Homo sapiens: one gene and its partners. The protein of the gene in region 6 interacts with the protein of the main gene of each other region in a pairwise test. Each region holds a gene or a part of one and is shown on either strand. Other genes may lie near its edges.

Region 1 (3,039 bases), on a different chromosome or scaffold from region 6:
AGGTGGCCCAAGTGGCTTCTGTGGTAGCCCACTGCACTCTCCATGGTACTGAAGGGATGACCATTTGTTTTAACATCTCTCTGGGGTCCAAAAGAGTCCTGTGACTTAGAATCACAAACTTTTTTCGAGCAGGAAGGGACTAACACTATAAATTAGTCCAATCCCCTTATTTTACTGATGAGTAAACTGGGAGGTTAAGTGATTTAGTAAAGGTTGTAGGGTTATCAATGTTCAGACTAGGCCTACAATAGCCTTGTACCCTTCAGTCCTATTCTAATTCACCTTTTGTGACACTATTCAGTAAGCCTGGCTAGGCTCTTAGTCCCAGGAAAGGATCCAGAGGATGAGAGTGGGTGCCCTAATTTGAAGCTACAGAAATACACATATTAAGTGGTAGTGGAGGTCGTCTAGTGACCCTTGGACAAGGACACTTTGTTAATTAATCATCTGCTAATAATAATCCTATAGCCCAGATTCCACATGTAACAGGTACCTGCCCCTTCATGGAGTTTTACCACATCCACTAAATGTCAAAAATTAAAGAAGCCTTGGACCTCCAGAGCCTTTTCTCTCTGCTGACAGGCAGGTTGACTCCTGGCACAGTTCTTTTCTATTAAAGATCCTTAGGCAAAGTAATGCTTGCATCTTTTTCTTTCTCAGTAACCCATTTCAGTTTTGTGATGCCTATTGTAAGGAAGTTCTTTATATCTCAAATATCCTTTCTTAGACAAAAAAAAAAAAAAAAAAAGGTTAGACCCACATTCATTTAGCCTTGACCAGATACTATTCTATATGAGGCAGAAAGGTAGACTAGATGACTTCTGGTCATCCTCCCAGGTCTGTTTCCATGAATCTTGATTCTGGGGTTTCTTCTAAGTCCTCATGCTAAACTCCTCTGCAGCTTAGGATCAGCACCCGCCCCCCCCCCCAACCCCTATCCTCTTCCTCTCAATGATCTTCTCCTTCCCCAGCACTGGAGCTCTGCAAGTCCCAGGCCTAGGGAATTTTAGCCTGGAGAATTTTAACCCTTTCCTGCTCAGAGCATGTGCTGAGTCCCTATCTGTGCAGATGGCCCAGCCCCGCCCCCCGTCCCTCACTCCAGCCTCTTGAGCTCAGAGCCAGTGTAATCCTCCTCTTGTGTGAGGGAGCCTCTCCCCTGCAGAGAGGAGGAAAGCCTGCCTCGGAACAGCCCTGGACAAAGGGGCTCAGATGCCCCATCATACTGCAGGCTCCAAGGTTTGAAACAAGGGGATGAATCCTATACGGTATTTGCAGTTTTTAGCCCCTTCCCCAGGCTAGCTGTGCCCCTTAACTTCCACTCCTCCCCCAACTCTCTCTTCATTCCCTCTCCCTCTGGCTCCCTCCCCCTTCATGCCCCTCCCCCTCTGTCTGTCTTCAGACTCTGCTGCTGGGAGGTGTTTCTCTCCCATGCATGAATGAGTCTCTGTAATGAATGGAAATGAATGGATCAGGAATCCAGGCGGAGGGAGGGAGAATGAGGGGGGAAAGACAGAAAGACAGGGTAAGGGCAGAAGGAAGCACTGTGGAACCTGGAAGGATGTTTGGCTGGCTGCTCAGTTAGGGATCTCAGAGCAACTGGTCCCACTTGGATAAATGGGGAGCATGGCAAGCCCACCTCATTTGCTCACCACACTGCATAGCCCAACCTACATGGGAGAGGGGCATATTGTGATGGTCTTCCCCACCGCCAGGGGGTGGGGTGGTAGCTGTGGTTGTTCTGGACCATGCATTTAAAATATAGAATTTGGGGAAGAAATCTGGATTATCTGGGAGGCTTGTAGGCTTGGCAAGTCAAGAGGTACAGTTTTTGAGTATAGCAGCCCCTTCGTGCCTCAAGAAGCAAGTAGGGAGAATGGATTGGTTTTGGGAATACAGAATGCTGAGAGTCTGGGGGTAGGGAGTGACTTTACTGCTGAAAACTAGGGCTCATCTTTTCCTCCAAATCTGTCTCTTGCTTTAGCTCCACAGCACCTGTTGCCTTCATTAGCAGCTTTTCCTCCTCTTCCCTGCACTTCCCAGAACCAAAGAATGTGAAGGGGGTCCATGGAGGTGAGTGAAGCTCTGGCTTCAACCTACAAGTACCTACAACTGTATACTCCCTCTCCTGCCTACCTCTCTCTCTCTTTGACCTCCCATTATTAGAAGTTAACTCCTTGGCCCTGACATCTCGATTCCCATACACCTCCCCCCACCCCATCTTCCCGAGGTGAGTAGCACCCTGTGTTCCTAGTTCAGGCCCCAGCCCACCTTCCCTCGTGTTGTCCTTCTGGCCCTCGAGGCGACGCCCTTGCTTCCTTTACAGCTCTACCTTCACCCTTTGCTCTACGCAGATCTTTCTCCACAGGGCTCACGTCCCCGCGCCCCGAGCGGCCACTTAGCGCCGTCGCCGCCGGCTTTCGACGGCGAGCTGGATCTGCAGCGATACTCCAACGGGCCAGCCGTGAGCGCAGGGTCGCTCGGGATGGGAGCGGTGAGCTGGTCTGAGAGTCGTGCAGGCGAACGGCGCTTCCCCTGCCCTGTATGCGGGAAGCGCTTCCGCTTCAACTCTATCCTTGCTTTGCACCTGCGGGCGCACCCAGGAGCCCAGGCCTTCCAGTGCCCTCACTGCGGCCACCGCGCGGCGCAGCGGGCTCTGCTGCGCTCGCACCTGCGCACACACCAGCCCGAGCGCCCACGTAGTCCTGCTGCACGCCTGTTGCTGGAGTTGGAAGAGCGCGCGCTACTACGCGAGGCCCGACTGGGGAGAGCCCGAAGCTCAGGGGGCATGCAGGCCACCCCTGCCACTGAGGGTCTGGCGCGGCCCCAGGCTCCTTCATCGTCCGCCTTCCGTTGCCCCTACTGCAAAGGCAAGTTTCGCACCTCGGCGGAGCGCGAACGCCACCTGCACATCCTGCATAGGCCCTGGAAGTGCGGCCTGTGCAGTTTCGGCTCCAGCCAGGAGGAGGAGCTGCTGCACCACAGCCTGACGGCCCACGGGGCTCCCGAGCGTCCCCTGGCGGCCACCTCCGCTGCGCCTCC
Region 2 (3,500 bases), on a different chromosome or scaffold from region 6:
TTCAGAGCCTAGCTCTGGTCCTCCATTCGCCACATGTTTTTTGAGCACTTATAGGTGAGTCACCACCCTAGGTTCTGGGGAAATGGTGAACAAAGGGCCAGAAGTCTCTGCTTCCTGGAGCTGACGTTCACTCCATAATGCTGGACAAGACATCCTGAGCCCATTTCTTCGTAAAAAGGAAGGAGAATGTGGGTCATGAAATGATCTGCTATATGAATGTAGTGTTATAATGTTGCTTTGTCTCAAAGGTTGGTTTGCTGAGCCAGGTAGTGTCTTAGGGGCCAGGGATAGAGAGATAACTAAAACAAAGCTCCTACCCTCAAGACCCTCTCAGTCTAGTGAGGAAAGCGGAGAAACTCACAAATAGGAATAAAAGGAGGCACTATATTGCAAAGCTATCATCTTGAGTTACCTGGGAGTCTGATATGAAGGTCACCCTAATAAAGACAGACTATGCTTTTGGAGTCTCAACAGGACTTGGCAGAGCAGCCAACCCTGGTGCACTCTAGACCTTGAGGGTGATAAGCCCAAAGAGGGTTGGATTGAGGGAGGGAGCTGCATGGGGGCCGTGGCCGGCAGGGTCCCTGGAGATTACAGCAGCAGAGCACTGGCTGGCTCTGAAGGGGAACCCTTGCCAGGCCTCTAGCAGAGGCTTGTCTTTCCATGTACAAGAAAAGTTAAGTGGTGAGGCCTGGAGAGGGGCCCCCTTCTGTACTGTGGTGAAGATAAACGAGGCTGGGAGAGGAGTGAGGGGACGCTATCCCAGAGAGGCTCCTCCCCACAGAGTGGGCAGAAGGAAGACAGAACTGGCCAGCCCCTCGGGGGAGTCGAGAAACCTTCCAGAGTGTGGGTCCCTGTCTCCATGCCCTGCCTCTCCAGACCTGAGTGCCTGCCCTCTGCTGTGACTGCCAGCCTCGTCTGTCCTGTTGGGTGAACTCTGTCCCATCTCTCTTGCCCCTCAAACATTTATTTATCCGGTGTCAAATTCCTACCCACCTTCCTCCAGGGGCCAGGCGCTACGAGATGAGGGGAAGGAACGGCAAGGTCAGCGGGAGCCCGTGGAGTCAGACCCTCCAGCAGCACCACTGGGGGCTGGGCAGGAGGGCATGGGCTGAGGCCACAGGGAAGGGCTGCTCCACAGGGAGGCCTCCCTCTGCTCCGTGGCAGTTGTGGTGCTGGAGATGGAGACCGTGTTTGCTTGTTGGGACCACATCTGCTTTCAGAGGGGAAGCGGGTCACTTCTTTCCCCTGGACCTGGAATGGGCACAACTGAGACGCAGGGAGCATTCCTGCAAGCTGGACACTGCTCTGGGAGAAGACCTCCATCCAACCTCCTGCCAAGACCCCAGCAGCTGCCAGTGTCACTGCCCACAAAAGTATTTGCTTAGCCCAAGAAGGAGTCAGTCAGATGTGTGGTGGCCATGAAATGGATCCTGCTGATTCTCTGTCAGACCTCCCTGCATTGGTCACTACCTCAAAGTTCCTTGGCTGCAACTCCATGTTGCCTGAATCTAGGGACTGTTGACGTATTGCAGGGGCTGGGCGCGGTGGCTCACGCCTGGAATCCCAGCACTTTGGGAGGCCGAGATGGGTGGATCACCTGAGGCCAGGAGTTGGAGACCAGCCTGGCCAACATGGTGAAACCCCGTCTCTACTAAAAATACAAAAATTAGCTGGGCATGGGGGCGCACCCCTGTAGTCCCAGCTACTCAGGAGGCTGAGGCAGGAGAATCACTTGAACCCAGGAGGCAGAGGTTGCAGTGAGTCGAGATTGTGCCACTGCACTCCAGCCTGGGTGATGGAGCGAGATTGTCTCAAAAAAAAAAAAAAAAAAAAGAGCTGCAGGGAAGAATGGCTGAGTGGAGGCCAGTGGCTTCATTGTGCCTCATCTGAACTCCCTGAAGGCTGAAGCAGGTCCCTGAGGCTTTCTGACCACACCCTCCACTCCCCGGCTGTTTCTATTTTTTTAATTTTTTTTTCTGAGAGGGAGTCTTGCTCTGTCACCCAGGCCAAAGTGCGGTGGCTCACGGCAACCTCCGCCTCCCGGGTTCAAGGGATTCTCCTGCTTCAGCCTCCCAAGTAGGTGGGATTATAGGAGCCCACCACCACACCTGGCTAATTTTTCTGTTTTTTAGTAGAGATGGGTTTCACCATGTTCGTGATTCTGCTGTTTCTAAGGAGTCTCTCCCAGGACCATGGGGGTCCACAGCAGGCCCTGAGACCCTGAAGCAGGTTGGCTGCACCTGGGCTACCACCTGCAGTAAAGGGGCTAATCTCTGAATGAGGCTTCCTGGTTCTCAGGCAGGGGATGGAGAGTAAGGACCACCCACTGTGCCTCAAGCTTCCCCCCTGCTGTCACTTAGGAGCCTGCCATCCTGCCATCCCTGAGAGCTTCCCAAGCAAGGCACAAAATCCACAGCCCTACTCTGACAAAGTGGCAAACACCAGCCCCTCTGGCAGCATGATGCCTTGGTCCTGTGTGCTGGAGAGAGCCTGTGTGTTTACTTGTGTGCCCGCCCATACAAGCCATGTCCCTGCGCCGCTTGAGCCCTGTTGGCTGCCTAACTGCTCATCAGCCTCTGACGCTTTGAGGTCCCTTCCTGGTCTCAAGATCCTCTGAACATCTGCCTCTGATAGGCCTTGAACCCGAGCCGCCTCCGGGCTTTTGTATTCAACTGCAACCATATCATTTGCCCTTGCTGATTCACTGTTTTGCACTTGATCTTCTGGCTGCTTCATGTGAGTCTGTTTTGTCTTCCTGCCGAGATAAAAACTCAAGGCTGGGGACTCGCTGACCAAATAACAGAGCAAGGCAGGCTTTTCGGCCTTGCATAATCTGATTCTTATTAAAACCCGCCGATTTCCAGGCACCAAGCCCCTATCCTCGTCAACAAGAAGTTTATCAGCAGGGTTGACTGACTCACAGGGAGGTGTGACCTCACTGCTGGAAGGAGGAAGTGCCATCAGAAACCTGTATAGATAATTTCCTGAAAGCTTCCAAGTTTGGTTTTTTGGGGAACTCCTCAAAGGAGAGGTGGATGGCAGGGGAAGGAGGAGGGGTGATGGGGAGGAGCAGAATAAGAAGTTGTACAAACAGGAGAGGCACAGAGTGGGGAGAAGGAAGCCACCACGGACGGTGAGCCCTGGGGCTTGGAGAAGGCCCTCGGCACCCTTCCAGGGCAGCTCCCACCTGTCAGTTGAAACCACCACCTGGAGACTTTCCACCATTCTCAAGGCCTTCCCACAGGTTCTACCCACCCACTGTCCCCCACCATCTGTCTGCCTCCCAGGCCACGCTGTCCACACTGAGTGAGCCCGCTAGTTTATTCAATACTAGGAATAAGCCGGTATAAAATACATTTTTAGAAAATTCACTTGGAGATAAAAAATCTTGTCCCCACTCCTCCCCCAATCCCACACATCTGTGCTCTTCTGCCTGAGTTAATTCAGCTTTGCTGAGCCTCCTGCAAGAGCTTGAGCAGGGGGTCGTCAGCCCTGAG
Region 3 (2,769 bases), on a different chromosome or scaffold from region 6:
GCCTGAGTTTCCCACGGAGACTTATCCATGCATCTGTCTCCTCACACCCCGCACCTGGCAGGGAACCACCGGACAGGCCGGTCACTGCTGCGTTCCCAGAACCTTCCAGACAGCACATCCGCCCCACACACGTGCAGCTCCCACTCCCCTCCCGGGGCTGCGCACACTGCCCCATCGCTGTGGCTCCTCCTGGGGCGGAGCCTGGAGAACAGGGAGGGTATGCGGCCCTTCCCAGGTCACACAGAAGGGCCCGACGGGCCGCTCCACCTCGTGCCATAGGCCAGGGTGGCCCAGTCTCCCACCCAAGCCAGGACCGGAGAAGCCACTATCCCTCAGCACACTCTAGCCTCAGCACTCGGCCGGGCCTCCAGGCAGGTTCCCACCTGGGAGAAGGGCTGGGGTTCTGGCCTTCATGCGGGGTTGGAAGAGGACTGAAAAGGCGAGTCCGAGGCTGGCCACATTCCCATCCAGTGTGGCTGGACCCCAGGGGTTCGGAGGCTCCGGGAAAGCCCACCAAGCCTCACGCGTTTCGCTGATAGATGCCCAGGAAGCGGCTGGCAGGGAAGAGGCGGTCCTGCAGCTCACAGAGCTCCCCTCCCACCCCCGGGGAGCCCCAGGCCGCGCTGCCCTCCACCTTCCCGCCCTCCCCGGCCTGCAACGCTCGTGGCGTTTTTCAACAGGTTCTAGAAACTCCCTCTCACTCTGCCCCTCAAGCCTGGCCACAGGGCGCCCCGAGCAGGGAGTGTGCGGGCTCCGGGTACACGCTGCGCCGCGGCTGCACCAGAGCGCCCACGACCCTGACCCCGACCCGAAGCGGCCCCTCAGCGGGACAGGGTGTTGGCGCTGGCGCTGCTGCTATTGCGGCGCGCCCCCCCGCTCTGGCCCCTGCGTGTCGCCAGGGACTCTTGCGCTAGGGTCAGACTCAAAGACGGACCGAGGCGGGTGCCCACCTGGGACGCGTGCGTTTGGTGGCGGAATCCCCGGGGCGGCCGGAGGCGGCGGCCGGGGAGTCGAGAAGCAAGTACTAGCGCTCCAGGACCGCGCGCGCCGCCCCGCGCCGCCCCGCGCCGCCCCTCGGTCCAGAGCCCCCACCCCCGGCCTGTGAGCCTGCGGCGCTGGTGGAGCCCGGCTCCAGGAAGAGGAGCTCACCCGGTCCCCCCTGATTGGACAGCAGCGAGGTCCCACCGGGCGCCTCCGCGGCTTAAAACCGAAGCGGGGGCGAGGGGGAGGTAGAGCCCGCCCCCTGCGCGTCGCGGCTGGGAGGGAGAGGAGGTGGGAGAGAAGGAAGAGGCGGAGGAGGCAGCGGGCGCCGAGGCTCTGGGACCCGCAGGCAAGCCAGACCGACGCGCAGAGCCGGGAGCCTCATCGCAGCGGCAGCGGCAGCGGCGGGCTCGGGCCGGCCTCGGGGGCTGCTCACCCACATGAGCATCCGCCCACCCGGCGAGCCCCCGAGCCCAGGCGGCGCGGCCATGGCCGAGCTCAAGTCGCTGTCGGGGGACGCGTACCTGGCACTAAGCCACGGCTACGCGGCGGCGGCTGCGGGTCTCGCCTACGGGGCGGCGCGAGAACCCGAAGCGGCCCGCGGCTACGGCACTCCGGGCCCGGGCGGCGACCTCCCCGCGGCGCCTGCACCTCGCGCCCCAGCTCAGGCGGCGGAGAGCAGCGGCGAACAGAGCGGGGACGAGGACGACGCCTTCGAGCAGCGGCGGCGGCGGCGCGGGCCAGGGAGCGCGGCGGACGGGCGGCGGCGGCCGCGAGAGCAGCGGTCTCTGCGGCTCAGCATCAACGCGCGCGAGCGGCGGCGCATGCACGACCTAAACGACGCGCTGGACGGGCTGCGAGCCGTCATCCCCTACGCGCACAGCCCGTCGGTGCGCAAGCTCTCCAAGATCGCCACGCTGCTGCTCGCCAAGAACTATATCCTCATGCAGGCGCAGGCCCTGGACGAGATGCGGCGCCTGGTGGCCTTCCTCAACCAGGGCCAGGGCCTGGCCGCGCCCGTAAACGCCGCGCCCTTGACGCCCTTCGGCCAGGCCACTGTGTGCCCCTTCTCCGCAGGCGCCGCCCTGGGGCCCTGCCCTGACAAGTGCGCCGCCTTCTCCGGGACGCCCTCCGCGCTTTGCAAACACTGTCACGAGAAGCCGTGACCGCGCGGGCCCCCGGCCCTCCCGCACGCGTCCTCCGATCGCCCCTGTGACTGTCTCTCTGCCCGGACAGGAAAGGCCTGGAGGGACCCTGCAGACCAGGAGGAGGGGGCCCGACTTCGCTTCCAGCCTGTGCGCGGTGGACAGTTTAGCGCAGCGGGAAGCGCCAAGGCCGTCGGGGCGCGGGATTGAGCTCGAGAGCCGGACGCTGGACTCTGCGCCCGGGAACTCGCGGCACCCACTGGGTATTGTCGGGACCCAGCAAGTCTAGGAACGGGGGTGGGTAGAGCATCCTTCGGGCACTGCCGTTCGTCCCCAAAAGAAGACCACCGCGGGGTCCCAGGGCCACGGCGAGGACGGGCACTGGTCAGATTCCGGACAGGCGGTCCTGGCCCCGGGCGCACGAAAGGTGGAGACGAAGAAAAGCCGGACTTACTGGCTCCTGATCCTCTTGCAGTGGGCCTCGCGCTCCCGCTCCAGCCGGCCCTTCGTGCTAAACTGCAGGGCAGTGCTCTGTTCCTGAGGACGCGCGTGGCCGGCACCTCCCACCTCGGTGACTCCGAGACTCCGCAGCCCTGCGGAGAGCCCACGATGGCCGTCTGCAGAGGAGCTGGACCGCGGGCGC
Region 4 (3,500 bases), on a different chromosome or scaffold from region 6:
AGGCATGGCAGTGCGGAGCTGTGGTCTCGGCTGCTTGGGAGGCTCAGGTGGGAGGATCACTTGAGCCTCAGAGTTCCAGGCTGCAGTGAGCTGTAATTGCACCATTGCACTTTAGCCTGGGCAACATAGTGAGACGCTGTTTAAAAAAAAAAAGTGGCTGGGCGCAGTGGCTGACACCTGTAATCCCAGCACTTTGGGAAGCCAAGGCGGGCAGATCACGAGGTCAGGAGATCAAGATCATCCTGGCTAACACGGTGAAACCCCGTCTCTACTAAAAATACAAAAAATTAGCCAGGCGTGGTGGCGGGCACCTGTAGTCCCAGCTACTTGGGAGGCTGAGGCAGGAGAATGGCATGAACCTGGGAGGCGGAGCTTGCAGTGAGCCGAGATTGCACCACTGCACTCCAGCCTGGGCAACAGAGTGAGACTCCATCTAAAAAAAAAAAAAAAGAAAGAAAGAATAAAACTGTGAAAGGAAATACAAATATTTAGCAATAGGTATTTTACCCAATTTATAAATGAGTTCTTACGTTTTAATGAAAATTCAAAATAGATAACTCAAATTTAAAAAATAACAGTATAAATAATGTACGGTATAAAAGGTTTCATATTACTTTAAGGCATGTAATTTATTACCTTCATATTCAGACCTTCATCATTCACCAGTTTCTTTTTTTCTTATTCAACTTTTATTTTAGGTTTAGAGGCTGCATGTGCAGGATTGTTACATGGGTCAAATATCACTGGTGGGACTGGGTGTGCAAATGATTTTATCACCCAGGTGGTGAACATAGTAACCAATAGGTAGTTTTTAGACCCTCACCCTATTTTCACCATTCATCTTCAAGTATGACCAGTGTTTATTTAACTCTTTGTGTCTGTGTGTACTCATCGTTTAGCTCCCACTTATAAGTGAGAACATGCAGTATTTGGTTTTCTGCCACTGTGTTAATTTGATTAGGATAATGGCCTCCAACTACATCCATGTTGCTGCAAAGGGCGTGATTTTGCTTTTTTCTATGGCTGTGTAATTGTCCCTGGATGTATGTGTACCACATATTCTTTATCCATTTTACTGTTGCTGGGCATATAGGTTAATTCTATGACTTTGCTATTGTGAATAGTGCTGCAGTGAATATACACATGCATGTGTCTTTTTGGTAGAATGATTCAGATTCCCTTGGATATATATACCCAGTAATAGGATTGCTGGGTTGAATGGTAGTTCTGTTTTAAGGTCTTTGAGAAATCTCCAAAATGCTTTCCACAGTGGCTGAACTAATTTACATCCCCTCCAGCAGCGTGTAAGCATTCCCTTTTCTCTGCAACCTCGCAAACATCTGTTATTTTCTGACTTTTTTGTAATAGTTATTCTGACTGGATGGTTTTGATTTGCATTTCTCTAATGATTAGAGATGTTGAGCATAATTTTTCACACACTTCTTGACCATGTGTATGTCTTCTTTGGAGAAGTGTCTGTTCATATTCTTGCCCATTTTTTTATGGAGTTGTTTGCCATTTTTCCTTGTTGATTAGTTCAAGTTTCTTATAGATCCTGGATATTAAACCGTTGTCAGATACACAGATAGCAAATATTTTCTTGTATTCTGTAGGTTGTCTGTTTACTCTGTTGACAGTTTATCTTGTTGTGTAGAGGCTCTTTAGTTTGATTAGGTCCCACTTATTTATTTTTGTTTTTGTTGCGATTGCTTTTGGAGACTTTGTCATGAAATATTTACCAAGGATTATGTCCATAATGGTATGTCCTAGGTTTTCCTCTAGGGTTTTTATACTTACAGGTTTTACATTTAAGTCTTTTTGTTTGTTTGTTTGTTTGTTTTGAGACGGAGTCTCACTCTGTCGCCCAGGCTGGAGTGCAGTGGCGTGATCTCGGCTCACTGCGAGCTCTGCCTCCCGGGTTCATGCCATTCTCCTGCCTCAGCCTCCCAAGTAGCTGGGACTACAGGCGCCTGCCACCACGCCTGGCTAGTTTTTTGTATTTTTAGTAGAGACGGGGTTTCACCATGTTAGCCAGGATGGTCTTGATCTCCTGACCTCGTGATCTGCCCACCTCGGCCTCCCAAAGTGCTGGGATTACAGGTGTGAGCTACCATGCCTGGCCACATTTAAGTCTTTAATCGATGTTTTTTTTCTTAATTTTTTTATTTTTAATTTTTGTGGGTACATACTAAGTATGTATATTTATGGGGTACAGGAGATATTTTGATACAGGGATGCAATTTGTAATAATTACATCATGGAGAATGGGGTGTCCATCCCCTCAAGCATTTACCCTTTGTATTACAAATAATCCAATTATACTTAGTTGCTTTAAAGTGTACAATTAAATTATTGCTGACTATAATCATCCTGTTGTGCTGTCACATGCTAGGTCTTACTTATTCTTTCTGTTTTTTAAATACGCATTAACCATCCCCACCTCTTCCCTAGTCCCCCTGACTACACTTCCCAACCTCTGGTAACCATCCTTTGACTCATGTCCATGAGTTCAGTTGTTTTGATTTTTAGATCCCACAAATAAGTAAGAACTTGTGCTGTTTGTCTTTCTGTGCCTGGCTTATTTCACTTAGCTTAATGACTTCTAGTTCCACCCATGTTATTGCAGATGACAGGCTCTCATGCTTTCTTATGGCTGAATAGTTCTCCACTGTGTGTATGTACATTTTCTTTATGCATTCATCTGTTGATGGACACTTAGGTTGTTTCCAAATTTTGGCTATCGTAAACAGTGCTACAACAAACGAGAGTGTGGATATCTCTTTGACATACTGGTTTCCTTTCTTTTGGCTATATACCTAGCAGGAGGATTGCTGGATCATATGGCAGGTTTCTTTTTAGTTTTTTTTTGAAAGACCTTCAAACTGTTCTCCATAGTAGTTGTACTAGTTGACATTCCCACCAGCTGTGTACAAGGATTCTCTTTTTTTCCATATCCTTGCCAGCATTTGTTACCTTTTTTTGTCTTCTTTAACTTTCTTGGGGACATACAAGGTGTATATATCTATGGATTACATGAGATGTTTTGATACAGGTATGCAATGTGAAATAAGCACCTCATGGAGAATGGGGTATCAGGCATTTATCCTTTGAGTTACAATCAAATTACACTCTTTAAGTTACGTTAAAATGTACAATTAAGTTATCATTGACTGTAGACACCTTGTGCTATCAAATAGTATGTCTTTTTTATTCTTTCTAAGTATTTTTTTTTTGTCAGCCATTAACTGTCTCCACCTCTCCTCCAGCTCGCCACTACTTTTCCCCACCTCTGGTAACCATCCTTCGACTCTCTATGCCCATGAGTTCAGTTGTTTTGATTTTTATATCCCACAGATAAGTGAGAACATGCGATATTTGTTTTTCTGTGCCTGGCTTATTTTGCTTAACATCATGATCTCCAGTTCCATCCGTGTTGTTGCTGCAAACGACTGGATCTCATTCTTTTTTTTTTTTTTTTTTTTGGCAAAATAGTACCCCAG
Region 5 (4,279 bases), on a different chromosome or scaffold from region 6:
CCCAGCAGCTTCAGCACTGAGGACTGGACTGGGTCGCCACGCCCAAAGGAAGGATAATTACTCACCTCCCACTCAAGAAGCAGGCGGCAGAACTGTTTTGGAGAGCATGGCTTGGGGCCTGGGACCTATGTTCATGCGGTCCAGACGGAGATCCATGAGAGTTAAGACTCTTTCTAGATATCAGGTAGCACTTCTGATTACAAAACTTTTGCACATGGTCTCCTCTCTGCTTTACAACAGCTCAGGAAAGTAGGCCCAAACATCCACTTTAATAGATGAGGGAGCTCAGAGGGGGTAACCAACCCCTCCAGGTCACACAGCCAGGGAGGGGGTTGAGCCAAGGTTCAAACCACTGCCTCGGTTGTTGCAGATACATCCCTGCAGACACCTTTATTGAAGAGGGACCCTGAAGGCTGAACGGCCAACACAGAAGAGGAGGCACTTGGGAGTAAGGGTGATTTATGGCCCTGGGAGGGCCCAGTGCAGGTAGGATGGGAGCTAAGGTAAGGCTGGGCCATGCCTAGCTGCAAGCAAATTTCCTTAAAAAACAAACAACAAAAAACATTACTTTTTCTAAACCTAAAGTTTGTGGTGGCATTCAAGTCCCATCATAGCCCATCTATCCAGACTCATCTGCCTGGGATCCCCGTCTTGGGACTAGTGGTCACTGGCCTGCTTCCTGGTCAATTAGCTTCCGGGACTAGGGGGAGGTGTGAGGAGCCTAGAGTGCAAAATTTAAGAAGCACTCAGTCTCAGGGGCGTGCAGGTGCAGGGTAGCGACGGCAGGACTCTAAGAGTGAGTCTCTTTCCTCCCCGTTTCCCCGTCCTACTTTCACTCTAAGCATTTAGTTCCCAGGGGACAGAGACGACTTCTTCATTAGAAGACCCCGGGGGGTCCCCAGCCCGGAAGGGCTCACAGTTGGAGCTCAAACATTTGCCACTGTTCAGGCTCATCTTTCTTTCCCCAGTGAAAAATGGTCTAGGTTGGGAAGGGCAGGTTCCTGTCTACTGCGTGATCCAACCGATTCTGGTTCGCCCAATGTCTGGACTTGTCCTTTGCCAAGAATAAGCAGATGAGATGGGCGGATGAACCCCAATGTCCCTGCAAGATTCAGGAAGTCCCAGCCAGAAAGTAAAGGACGTTTAGTTCCATGTATTGTTTTCTTTTTTACATGCGGGGCAACACACCTGGACAGTGTCGATGGCTTGCTCCAAGCCACACGGCCGCATAGGGACAGGGACTGGGCTACATAACAAGTTCTTCGACGCTGTGATCTAATCAAGGAAAACCTGGGACGCAGCTAATAGATGCGCATCGAGTGTATCGACGCTCTAAGTACGAGGGCTGGAACAGTGAGCAGGATCAGTCCATTGCTTTTGCCTACCTGCTGAGCGCTGATTGGTCCCCGTTTAGGAAACGGAAAAAGGGGCGTGCACGCGGGCGCGGCTGCGTGAGAGGCGCGCGGCGGCGCAGTGAACAGTCTCCTTCCACAAAACCATGGCGTCGCTCAAATGTAGCACCGTCGTCTGCGTGATCTGCTTGGAGAAGCCCAAATACCGCTGTCCAGCCTGCCGCGTGCCCTAGTGAGCGGGGAGGTCGCGGGGTCCAGGGGCGCGGGTGTCCGGCCATGGCGGGAGGGCGGGAGGCCGGGAGGCCGGGCGGGAGCGGGCGGGCTGCTGGAGGGGCCGGGGACCCTCGGGGCTGACGCGGCCTGTGGCCTCTGTTGTTACAGCTGCTCGGTAGTCTGCTTCCGGAAGCACAAAGGTGAGCCCCGTCCCCGCCAGCCCTCGTACCACTGCGCACGGGGCAGCCCCCACGTCCAGCCTCCGTCTTGGGGGCGTGGACCCTTGGGCTGCGCTTCCTTTCCCGCCTCGGGTCTCCGCGGGTTCTGCAGGAACCTTGCTTCCTCTGACTTGGTCCCTGGTGTCTCTGTGTGTCGGACAGTTCCCTCTGTTGTCCCTGCCTGTAATCGCTCTCAGGGTTTTGGTCAGTAGCCTTTCTTCTACCCCGCTTCTCCTTCTGCGTGTTACTCTTTTTTGCTTAGAAATAGTTTCCGATTGCTTTTCCCACCGAGGTCTACCCTAGCAGTTTCTTCCTCAGTATTCTGATGTAGCCCCTCACCATTTGGCTGAAACTGCGCTAACTTTAACAGTATTTTCACTCGTGTAAATAATGTCTTGTTAGAAACAAAGAGGTAAGTCCATGTACAATACAAGGAGACGTCCTTGATTTGTTAAGAGAAAAAAAGAACCAAGTAAGTTCTGTGTATGATGTGAACACACTTTTGTACAGTTAAAAAGAAGTGACCTGGCCGGGCGCGGTGGCTCACGCCTGTGGTCCCGGCACTTTGAGAGGCCAAGGCGGGTGGATCACCTGAGCCCAGGAGTTCGAGACCAGCCTGGCCAACATGGTGAAACTCCGTCTCTACTAAAAATACAAAAATTAGGCGGGCGAGGTGCGCGCCTGTAATCCCAGCTACTCAGGAGGCTGAGGCAGGAGAATCGCTTGAACCCGGGAGGCGGAGGTTGTAGTGAGCCGAAATCGCACCACTGCACTCCAGCCTGGGCTACAGAGCCAGACTCAGTCTGGAAAAAAAAAGAAAAAAAAAAGTTTGATGTAGGTGGGGCGCGGTGGGTCACGCCTGTAATCCCAGCACTTTGGGAGGCCGAGGCGGGCGGATCATTTGAGCTCAGGAGTTTGAGACCAGCCTGGGCAACATAGCGAAACCCCGTCTCTATAAACAAACAAAGCCAGGCGTGGTGGCCTGTGCCAGTGGTCCCAGCTACTCAGGAAGCAGAGGTGGGAAGATCGCTTGAGCCTGGGAGGAGGAGGTTGCAGTGAGCCAGGATCGTACCACTGCACTCCAGCCTGGGAGACAGCAAGACTGTCTCAAAAAAAAAAAAAAAAAAAGCTTGATGTAGATTCTTTCAGCTTATTTCCACTCTTGTACCAATATATAGAACTTTTTTTTTTAGCTTTTAGAATCTCAGCAATGAGACTGTACCCAACATCCTCATTTGAGTTTATATATTGGGCACTTTTTAAAACCTAGTGCATACAGGCTGGGCGCAGTGGCTCATGCCTGTAATCCCAGCACTTTGGGATGCCAAGGTGGGTGGATCACCTGAGGTCAGGAGTTCGAGACCAGCCTGGCCAACATTATGAAACCACATCTCTACTAAAAATACAAAAATAAGCTGGGTGTGGAGGTGCGCGCCTGTAATCCCAGCTACTTAGGAGGCTGAGGCAGGATAATTGCTTGAACCATGGAGACGCAGGTTGCAGTGAGCCAAGACTGCACCACTGCACTCCAGCCTGGGCAACAGAGTGAGACTCCATCTAAAAAAAAATTAAAAAAATTAAAAATAAAGACTAGTGCATACAAGTTCTAGCTCACTGACTTAAAGGACTGTATGTTATTTCATTATATAGTTGGTACGACCATTATTTATATAAAGCCTCCTATTGGTTGATTTTTCTTTTTAATATTTGTTTTTAATTGACACATAATTGCATACAATTTGAGTTACAGTGTGATACTTCGATACCTGTATACAATGTTTAAGGATCAAATTAGGGTAATTAGCATATTCGCCCCAAATAATCATTTCTTCATGTTGGGAACACTCGCAATCCTCTCTTGTAGCTATTTGAAAGTATAAATTGCTGCCAACATGGTCACACTAAGGTACTGTGTAACACTAGAACTTATTCCTCCCATCTAGCTGTAATTTTGTATCCATTAAGCAACTTCTCCCTAGCCCCCTACACTCTACTCTTCCTAGCCTCCAGTTACCACTATTCTGCTCTCTACTTCTGTGAAATCAACTTGCTTAGCATCCACATGTTAACAAGAACATCTTATGGTGCCTGGCTTGTTTCACTTAACATTATGTTCTTTGGGCTCATCCATGTTCCTGCAAGTGACAGGATTTCATGGTTTTTTATGGCTAATATCCAGTGTATATATGTACCGCATTTCTTTATCCATCTGTTGGTGGATCCTTAGGTTCATTCCTTATCTTGGCTGTTGTGACTAGCAGTAAACGCAGGAGTGCAGGTATCTCTTCGGCAGACTGATTTCATTTCCTTTGGATATATATACAGTAGTGGGATTGCTGGATCATATGGTAGTTCTATTCGTAGTTTTTTTTTAGGAACCTCTATGCTGTTTTCCATAATGACTATACTAATTTACATTCCCAATAACAGTGCAGTGTATAAGAGTTCCCTTTTCTCCACATCCTTGCCAACATGTTTTTTTCTTTTTGATAATAG
Region 6 (3,500 bases):
CTTCAAATCTAAGAAATAAGCAAAACGTAAATTGAAATTAGGAATATCCATATTCCACTGCTGTATATTCAGAAGAATGAATTGCTGACTCTAAAGCAATTCCAGAAAAATGTCTGAACTTTTGTGCTATGGCAGCATTTTTAGAATAAGTGTATGATTTTCTGTGGTGCTTTTTTTTTTTTAAAGGAACAGCATTCAGGTGTGTGTATAAATACCAGCATGTTCATTTAGGAGAGCATCGCATTGCTGCTTCATCATCCAAAGAGCTTTATAGGCTCTAGCTTTCCCCCTACTTTAAAGATTCTTGGCGTATGTTAGGAAACCCAGTATGTAAGCTGCTGCAGGTTATCTTTACAAATGGGAGACCTAGGCACAAAGAAACTTACCTAATGTCATTATGTTGAATGACCATTAGCCAGAACTCCTGTTTCCTATTTCTTCATATCTCTTACTGTTCATTTTAGCACTGGATTGTAGGATCTGAACGTTGAGCACAGAAACAGGTACCAGTGTCCTGGAATCAGACTTGGGAGGCCCCTAGTTAATGAAATGTTTCTTGTTTCTTCTTGATGTTGTTTGTTTTCACAGTGCAGCCTAAACCACTAGTGAAAATTAGACTCACTTCTTTATGTTTTTTAAAGCCCGGTGGCATTTCTATCCAGATTTTGTTCCTGTCTGAAGGATGGGGTAATATATCACTAATGGCATTATTGTGGTTTTGTTGTTTTGTGAATTAAAAGTATTACTTTTTAAAAAGAACAGGGTAACAAGGTCTTTAGCCAAAGTTGTGTTTCTTTATTCAAATAAGTTGAAGTTATGACTAATAGCTACTATTGTGGTGCTTGGTCATAGGAAATTAGGTCCTTAACAGACTACCAGCTCCTCATAACTTGGAAGAATCTAGAACAGCCTTCCTTTTTGTAAAAGCCTGCTGTATTTTAGCTGCAGGATTGTATTATGCACATAGTGACCAAGATAGAGGGTGGCTTTCTTGAGGACAAGTGGTCTTACTTTTGTAGTCAGTAACGTTTCGTATCAGTTCTTTGCAATATATGTGAGAATGGGTGGATGATGAGTGACTACAGAGGAATTTTATATCATTTAATTTGCATTAGTGGATTTCCAGGTATTGATCAAAAATGAGCTGCTAAAAAGTTTTAGGAATTTAGAAACTGGTGAGCAAAATTTTACTGTCTATCCCCAAGTGGTATTCTGTGGCTAAAATCTTAAAACTTTCCAATCAATAGAGAGGTTGTATCTTTTTTTGACAAATTGTTTTGAGGAGAAAAGAGAAAAAGGAGGAGGAAAATGGTAAGCGTTTATATGGCAGGGCAGAAAGCTACATTAGTGCCAAAAGTTTCATCTTTTGATTTTGAAAAATCAGTTCTTCATTTCCTTTGTAGTACCTCTTAGAAAAGTGTACACAGAAGTAAAAGTGGCCACCTTTGACAACTTTTAGCATTTTATGAATACTGCCTGTGTGTGTAGATTTCAGTACTTCTTGGGGTCCTTGGGATCTTTCAAATTAAACTGCTATTTCTTGAATAAAAGTTAAGAGCAACACTATTTTTAAAAAACAGCATTTTGAACCAGTGCAAAATGACTTGGAAATTCCCATATAAGGCTTCCTCTTAGAGGTCTTATTTTATAAACAGATTGACTATCCATTTTCCCCTAGATATTAATTATTTAGCTTTAAACAAAGGGTGGTGGTATTAAAATTTTGCTCTTTAAGCATGTTTAGCATACTTGCAGATATTTTTTAAGTTCTGTGTTGTCAGTAGGTAGTGTTAAAAGGATGGGCATTGGTTATACATCTTTGTTAGTAGCTTCATCGTGAGCTGGTGATCTTTATATTATATCAGAATGGTGCTTTCCTCTTTATTTCCTCTTTATTTCTCCTGTGGTAGGTTTTTTACCCTCCTAAATTTAGGCATGTGTATGAAGACATCTTCCTGAAACAACACATTAGTGGTATTTATCTAAGTTTTTGGTACATTCTGATTTTCACTAATGTCTCATGGTATAAAAGTAGTGCAAACAGTATCACTAAAGTATTGCTAACATTAAAAATAATGTTAAAAATTATATGTGAACTAGGCCGTTTCCAGCATTGTACTGGGGAGTCACAGATTAAGAGTGTAGTTAACCTGTGTCAAACAGAATCGCAGAATGCGGGCACTTAGAAACCTAGAAACCATTAGAACCCAGGCCCTTTTTACAAATCAACCAAGACCCAGAGAAAGGATGTATATGCTCAGCGTCATGTAGTCAGGGGGTGGAAGCACTCGGTGTAGGACCTTGTGTACCTGTCATGAAGTCTTGGTAGATGCGAGGAGCATAATTAGGACATTAGCTGGATGTTTGACTTTGTGATGTCCTGATCTGTACTGGAAGAATTGAGGAACACTCACCAGGAGTCAAATGAAGTTAATTCGTTTCTAATGATTTTTGGAGTTATTTTTCTCAAAGGAAGTGTTTGACTTTGGTAAGTTGCTAGTTGAAGTGTGGAATCCAAGAGTCCTCGAGGGCTATAGGGACCCAGGCAGGCGTTCTCTATGATTAGTATCCACAGCAGCATGTTTAATGCTTCAATGAAATGCTGCTTTATTCTCTTGAAGCCTCAGTAAATAGTGTTTTTATGGTTTTTTTTTTTTTTAACCCATAGAGTTCCTCCAAGTCTCAGCATGATCACTTGGCAGATTTCGGGATTAATAGTTTAATAGTTTTATCCCTTTAATATATGAGTTTATTTGAGAGCAAACCACATGTGAAAAGAATATCTTGATATAGTGTGCCCATTTTCATGTATAAAGCAGGGCTCCAGATAGTTTCTAGAGTTTAATTTCAGGATCTACCATCTCATCATCAGGGTGGTGTAGTGTAGGAAGTGCTGTAAATGAGAGGGCAGAAGGCTTGAGTTCCAGAACTAGTTTCTTCATTGATACCCACTTGACTGTTTTCTCATCTATGAAATAAGCATACATTTCCTGCTTAAGTCACAGGATTGTTAGGAAAGTCAGATAAACTATAGATAGATGGGTAGAGAGATTGATTGTCATGTTTTAGTAATCTACAAAATGCTTTTCTTTCCTGAGAGAGTATGGCCTAGGAAGTGGTCTGCCTGGTTTCAGGTGTTAGCTCCAACTGTAGACGCTCTGTGACGTCAAACAGTTACTTAAGTTCTCTGTGCCTTGGTGTCCTTCCTCAAGTAAAACTGTTAATAGTGCTCATCTAAGACGGTTAAATGTGCTTAAAACAGTGCCTGGCCTGAGAGATCAATAAAGTATAGTAGTAATAACAATATTACATTTGGGTCATGCGAGTGATGTTAGAGGCAGAACCAATAGTAGAAAGGGTTGTAGTGTTCTCCTAATGAGATTCAAAGGGTCTGCTCTATGCCTTGCCTTTAAAAAAAAATTGTGTTAAAATACATGTAACATAGGCTAGGCGCGGTGCCTCACGCCTGTAATCCCAGCCCTTTGGTAGGCCGAGGTGGG
Region 7 (3,500 bases), on a different chromosome or scaffold from region 6:
AGGTGCTGGGAAGTCCCTTGAGGGTCATCAGGAGCCCGGCACACTGCGGGAAGAGGGAGGCACAGGGGCTGGACCCGGGATCCTGCCCCCCTGGCCACCCACCATCAGCCCAGAGGCCCCGCCCCTCCCCCTGCCTTGCTCACCCGCCCAAACACACGCCCAGCCTTGCTCCGGATCAGCTCCAAACTGTCGGGGTTTTTCTTCTGGGGCATCAGGCTGCTTCCCGTGCTGGGGACAGAGGTGCTGGCGCTGAAGGGGCTGGACCCTTGGCTGGTCCAGCGCCGCAATGGCCAGGTCTGGCGGAGGGGTGGGACGGGGAGGAAGGCAGCCACGTCCGCGGGCGGCGGGGGATACAGAGGCCGGCAGCGGCAGATGGAGGTGGCAGTTCAGGGCTTACCTGTAGGCATCTGAGAGCTGCACGAAGCTGAATTCCTTGGTGCAGTAGAGGATGAGGTCCTCGGCCATCCTGCTGAGATGGGTCATGCACAGCGAAGCCCAGAACAGGAACTCGGCTGGGAGAAAAGGTTCCCAGTCACCAGGCCTCTCCCATCCCCACCCAGCCTGACCATACAGGGGGCAGGAGGAGGTTAGGCGGTGGGGGGACCCGGCTAAATTTTCATTTTTCGCAAAGATGGGGTCGTGCTATGTCGCCCAAGCTGTTCTGAAACTTGTGGGCTCAAGCAATCCTTCTGCTTTGGCCTCCCAAAGTGCTAGGATTACAAACGTAAGCCATTGCACCTAGCGTGTTTTTTGTTATTGTTGTTGTTTTAAATAAACCAGCTTTACTGAGTTATCACTCACATACAATTTATCCATTTATTTATTTATTTATTTATTGAGATGGAGTCTCGCTCCCAATGCACAGGCTGGAGTACAGTGGCACAATCTTGGCTCACTGCAACCTCTACCTCCCAGGTTCCAGCGAATCTCCTTCCTTAGCCTCCCGAGTAGCTGGGATTACAGGCATGCACCACCATGCCCAGCTAATTTTTGTGCTTTTAGTAGAGATGGGGTTTCACCATGTTGGCCAGGCTGGTCTTAAACTCCTGACCTCATGTGATCCACCTGCCTCGGACTCCCAAAGTGCTAGGATTACGGGCGTGAGCCACCATGCCTGGCCTATTTATTTTTATTTTATTTTATTTTATTTTTTGAGATGGAGTTTCGCTCTTGTTGCCCAGGCTGGAGTGCACTGGCGTGATCTTGGCTCACTGCAGCCTCCGCCTCCTGGGTTCAAGTGATTCTCTGGCCTCAGAACTCCTGAGTAGCTGGGATTACAGGCACCTGCCACCACACACCCAGCTAAATTTTGTATTCTTAGTAGAGATGGGGTTTCACCATGTTGGCCAGTGCTGGGCATGGTGAACCACCATGCCCCACCCACTTTACCCATTTAAGGTTTATACTTCAGTGTACAATATCACCACAACCAGCCTGTCCGTGGAGGTGTGGGAGGAAACTGGAGAGAAGCTGGGCTGAAGGACTAAAGTGAGGCACAGGGCAGGGGACTGGCTCCCCAGGACTCACCCACAAAGTCCCGCTCACTAGTGGCATCCATGCTGTTGAGAGTGATGGCCCCAAAGTTGAGTTCTGGGGGGGTGGGAGGAAGCAGGGCTAAGCTGGAGGACAGGGAGTGGCCCCCTCTCCCCCAACTAGGTTGCCCAGCCCCCTCCCCTGATCAGGGTGGGGCAACAGCTGGGGGGAGGGATCTTTTGCACAGTCCCAGGAGGGAGGCAGGAGCCCTGAGTCTCTCAGTACCAGGCATCCCTGCCATGAGTGACCCCTGAACTTGATGACCTCAGTGCCCATAGGCAATGAATGAAGGTTTCACCAGGAGCCACAGGCCCCTGCCCTCTGGTTTCAGGTGTGTCTGCAGGTCTTGGCGGGTGCTGAGGGTGATTCTCCCTGGGGAGGAGGGGCAGGACGTCTCACCTGCTCGGAGCAGCTCTCGGTCCACACCCAGGGGATTGCCTGCAATGGCCCCACTGCAGGGACAGGGATTCATGGTGACCAGGGCTCCTGGCAGGCAGCCCTGACACACACACACACACACACACACACACACACACACACACGAACGCACACACAGAGAACCAAGTCCTGGTTGCCAGGGCAACCACCTGGCGCTTAGCCTCTTCCCTGGCCCAGTCTCCTTGGGTACAGAATACTTGTCCCCAAGTGTCCACAAAACACTTGTCCCCAAGCACTAAGTCACCCTGGGTGCAGGACACTTGTCTCCTGACACATGTTCCCACATGTCAGGCTGAGGGCAGCAGGCTGGGCTTGCCAGGAGCCTTGCTGGAGGGCTCTGGCCCTGCTCAGACACATTCAATGGCTTGGTCGTCACCTTAGCGAGAGCTGGGGCTCCATGCAGAGTCCCCCGCTGAGCAGATAAGGCGGTTTTCTGTCCCACTCTGCACTTCCCAGCTCTGTCAATCCCTAAGGCTATGCAGCAGCCACCCCCACCAGGCCCTCGGGGCACTGGAGCCTCACCCACCTCCCCAGGGGCAGGACATTGATCCGCTTCCGCACCTCCAGCAGCCGCTCAGAGTCTCGGGTCAGTGCCACGGCGTGGCTGTGGGAAGCCAGGGGCAGGAGGGTCAGGGCAGCCGGGGTCCTCCCCTCTAGCACAGCCCCTGCACCTCACCTGGCTCACCTCAGAATCCAGTGGCTCCAGCGGATGGGCTGGGCCCTCTGCAAATGGGTGTACCCCGGGAAGAGAACATCACGTTCCCTGTGGGAGAGGAGGAGCAGAAGCTCGGGTGGAGGCTCATGCAAGGCCTGCCTGTGACACTGGAACCCTGCAGGCCTGGGTCACCCCTGGAAAAAGTGTCACGCTGCAGCACTCCACCTGAATGAGGGATCTGGTGATCTCCCAGGGACAAATCAGTCTTAAGGGCAAAAGAAGCTGGAAGTGGGACCGTGTGAACCAAGGACTGGGCCTGAGCTGTGGGGCTTCCTGCAGTGAGGCTTTGCCAGAAACACCCCAAGTCCAGCCTCTGTCACTCAGCATCTCCGAGCAGGGGCCAGAATAGGGGAGGAGGCCCATGTTGGGTATGACTTGGCCGTGGGAGGTTTCGTTTGAGGACCCTAGAAATAGCTGGGGCTCATTCAAGGGCTGCTCTGAGCAGGTGAGATGCCCTGCACCTCATTCAAGTAGGCAGGGCAGAGGCAGAGGTGCTGTGAGTGATGGTCCTGTTTTCTTGTTGTTTTGTTTTGTTTTTATTTTTAGAGACAAGGTCTCGTTCTGTTGCCCAGACTGGAGTGCAGTGGCATGATCATAGCTCACTGCTGCCTCGATCTCCTGGGCTCAAGCGATCCTCCTGTCTCAGCCTCCTGAGTAGCTGGGACTAAAGGGACATGCCACCATGCCCAGCTAATTTTTAGTTTTTTGTAAAGATGGGGTCTTGTGGCCAGGCGCGGTAACTCACGCCTGTAATCCCAGCACTTTGGGAGGCCGAGGCGGGCAGATCACAAGGTCAGGAGATCGAGACCATCCT

What was found.
Region 1: the proteins of CSNK2A2 (region 6) and ZNF219 interact in a two-hybrid assay, tested with the Homo sapiens proteins (one large-scale study listed by BioGRID and IntAct).
Region 2: the proteins of CSNK2A2 (region 6) and DCPS interact in a two-hybrid assay, tested with the Homo sapiens proteins (one large-scale study listed by BioGRID and IntAct).
Region 3: the proteins of CSNK2A2 (region 6) and BHLHE23 interact in binary tests that used the Homo sapiens proteins (3 or more experiments, as listed by UniProt).
Region 4: the proteins of CSNK2A2 (region 6) and ZNF670 interact in binary tests that used the Homo sapiens proteins (3 or more experiments, as listed by UniProt).
Region 5: the proteins of CSNK2A2 (region 6) and ZNHIT3 interact in a two-hybrid assay, tested with the Homo sapiens proteins (one large-scale study listed by BioGRID and IntAct).
Region 7: the proteins of CSNK2A2 (region 6) and ASL interact in a two-hybrid assay, tested with the Homo sapiens proteins (one large-scale study listed by BioGRID and IntAct).

The regions. Positions count from the first base shown.
Region 1 is NC_000014.9:21,092,617-21,095,655, reverse strand, and holds part of ZNF219 (zinc finger protein 219), read left to right. Parts: intron 1-1,981; 5' UTR 1,982-2,064; coding exon 2,065-2,070; intron 2,071-2,365; coding exon 2,366-3,039. UniProt on the Homo sapiens protein: Transcriptional regulator. Recognizes and binds 2 copies of the core DNA sequence motif 5'-GGGGG-3'. Binds to the HMGN1 promoter and may repress HMGN1 expression. Regulates SNCA expression in primary cortical neurons.
Region 2 is NC_000011.10:126,345,560-126,349,059, reverse strand, and holds part of DCPS (m7GpppX diphosphatase), read right to left. Parts: coding exon 3,447-3,500; 3' UTR 1-3,446. UniProt on the Homo sapiens protein: Decapping scavenger enzyme that catalyzes the cleavage of a residual cap structure following the degradation of mRNAs by the 3'->5' exosome-mediated mRNA decay pathway.
Region 3 is NC_000020.11:63,005,427-63,008,195, reverse strand, and holds BHLHE23 (class E basic helix-loop-helix protein 23), read left to right. Parts: upstream 1-1,231; 5' UTR 1,232-1,421; coding exon 1,422-2,147; 3' UTR 2,148-2,269; downstream 2,270-2,769. UniProt on the Homo sapiens protein: May function as transcriptional repressor. May modulate the expression of genes required for the differentiation and/or maintenance of pancreatic and neuronal cell types. May be important for rod bipolar cell maturation.
Region 4 is NC_000001.11:247,068,812-247,072,311, reverse strand, and holds part of ZNF670 (zinc finger protein 670), read left to right. Parts: intron 1-3,500. UniProt on the Homo sapiens protein: May be involved in transcriptional regulation.
Region 5 is NC_000017.11:36,485,202-36,489,480, forward strand, and holds the start of ZNHIT3 (zinc finger HIT domain-containing protein 3), read left to right. Parts: upstream 1-1,479; 5' UTR 1,480-1,498; coding exon 1,499-1,584; intron 1,585-1,733; coding exon 1,734-1,765; intron 1,766-4,279.
Region 6 is NC_000016.10:58,191,607-58,195,106, reverse strand, and holds part of CSNK2A2 (casein kinase II subunit alpha'), read left to right. Parts: intron 1-3,500.
Region 7 is NC_000007.14:66,085,819-66,089,318, reverse strand, and holds part of ASL (argininosuccinate lyase), read right to left. Parts: intron 2,735-3,500; coding exon 2,657-2,734; intron 2,576-2,656; coding exon 2,498-2,575; intron 1,986-2,497; coding exon 1,933-1,985; intron 1,591-1,932; coding exon 1,528-1,590; intron 513-1,527; coding exon 398-512; intron 229-397; coding exon 144-228; intron 44-143; coding exon 1-43.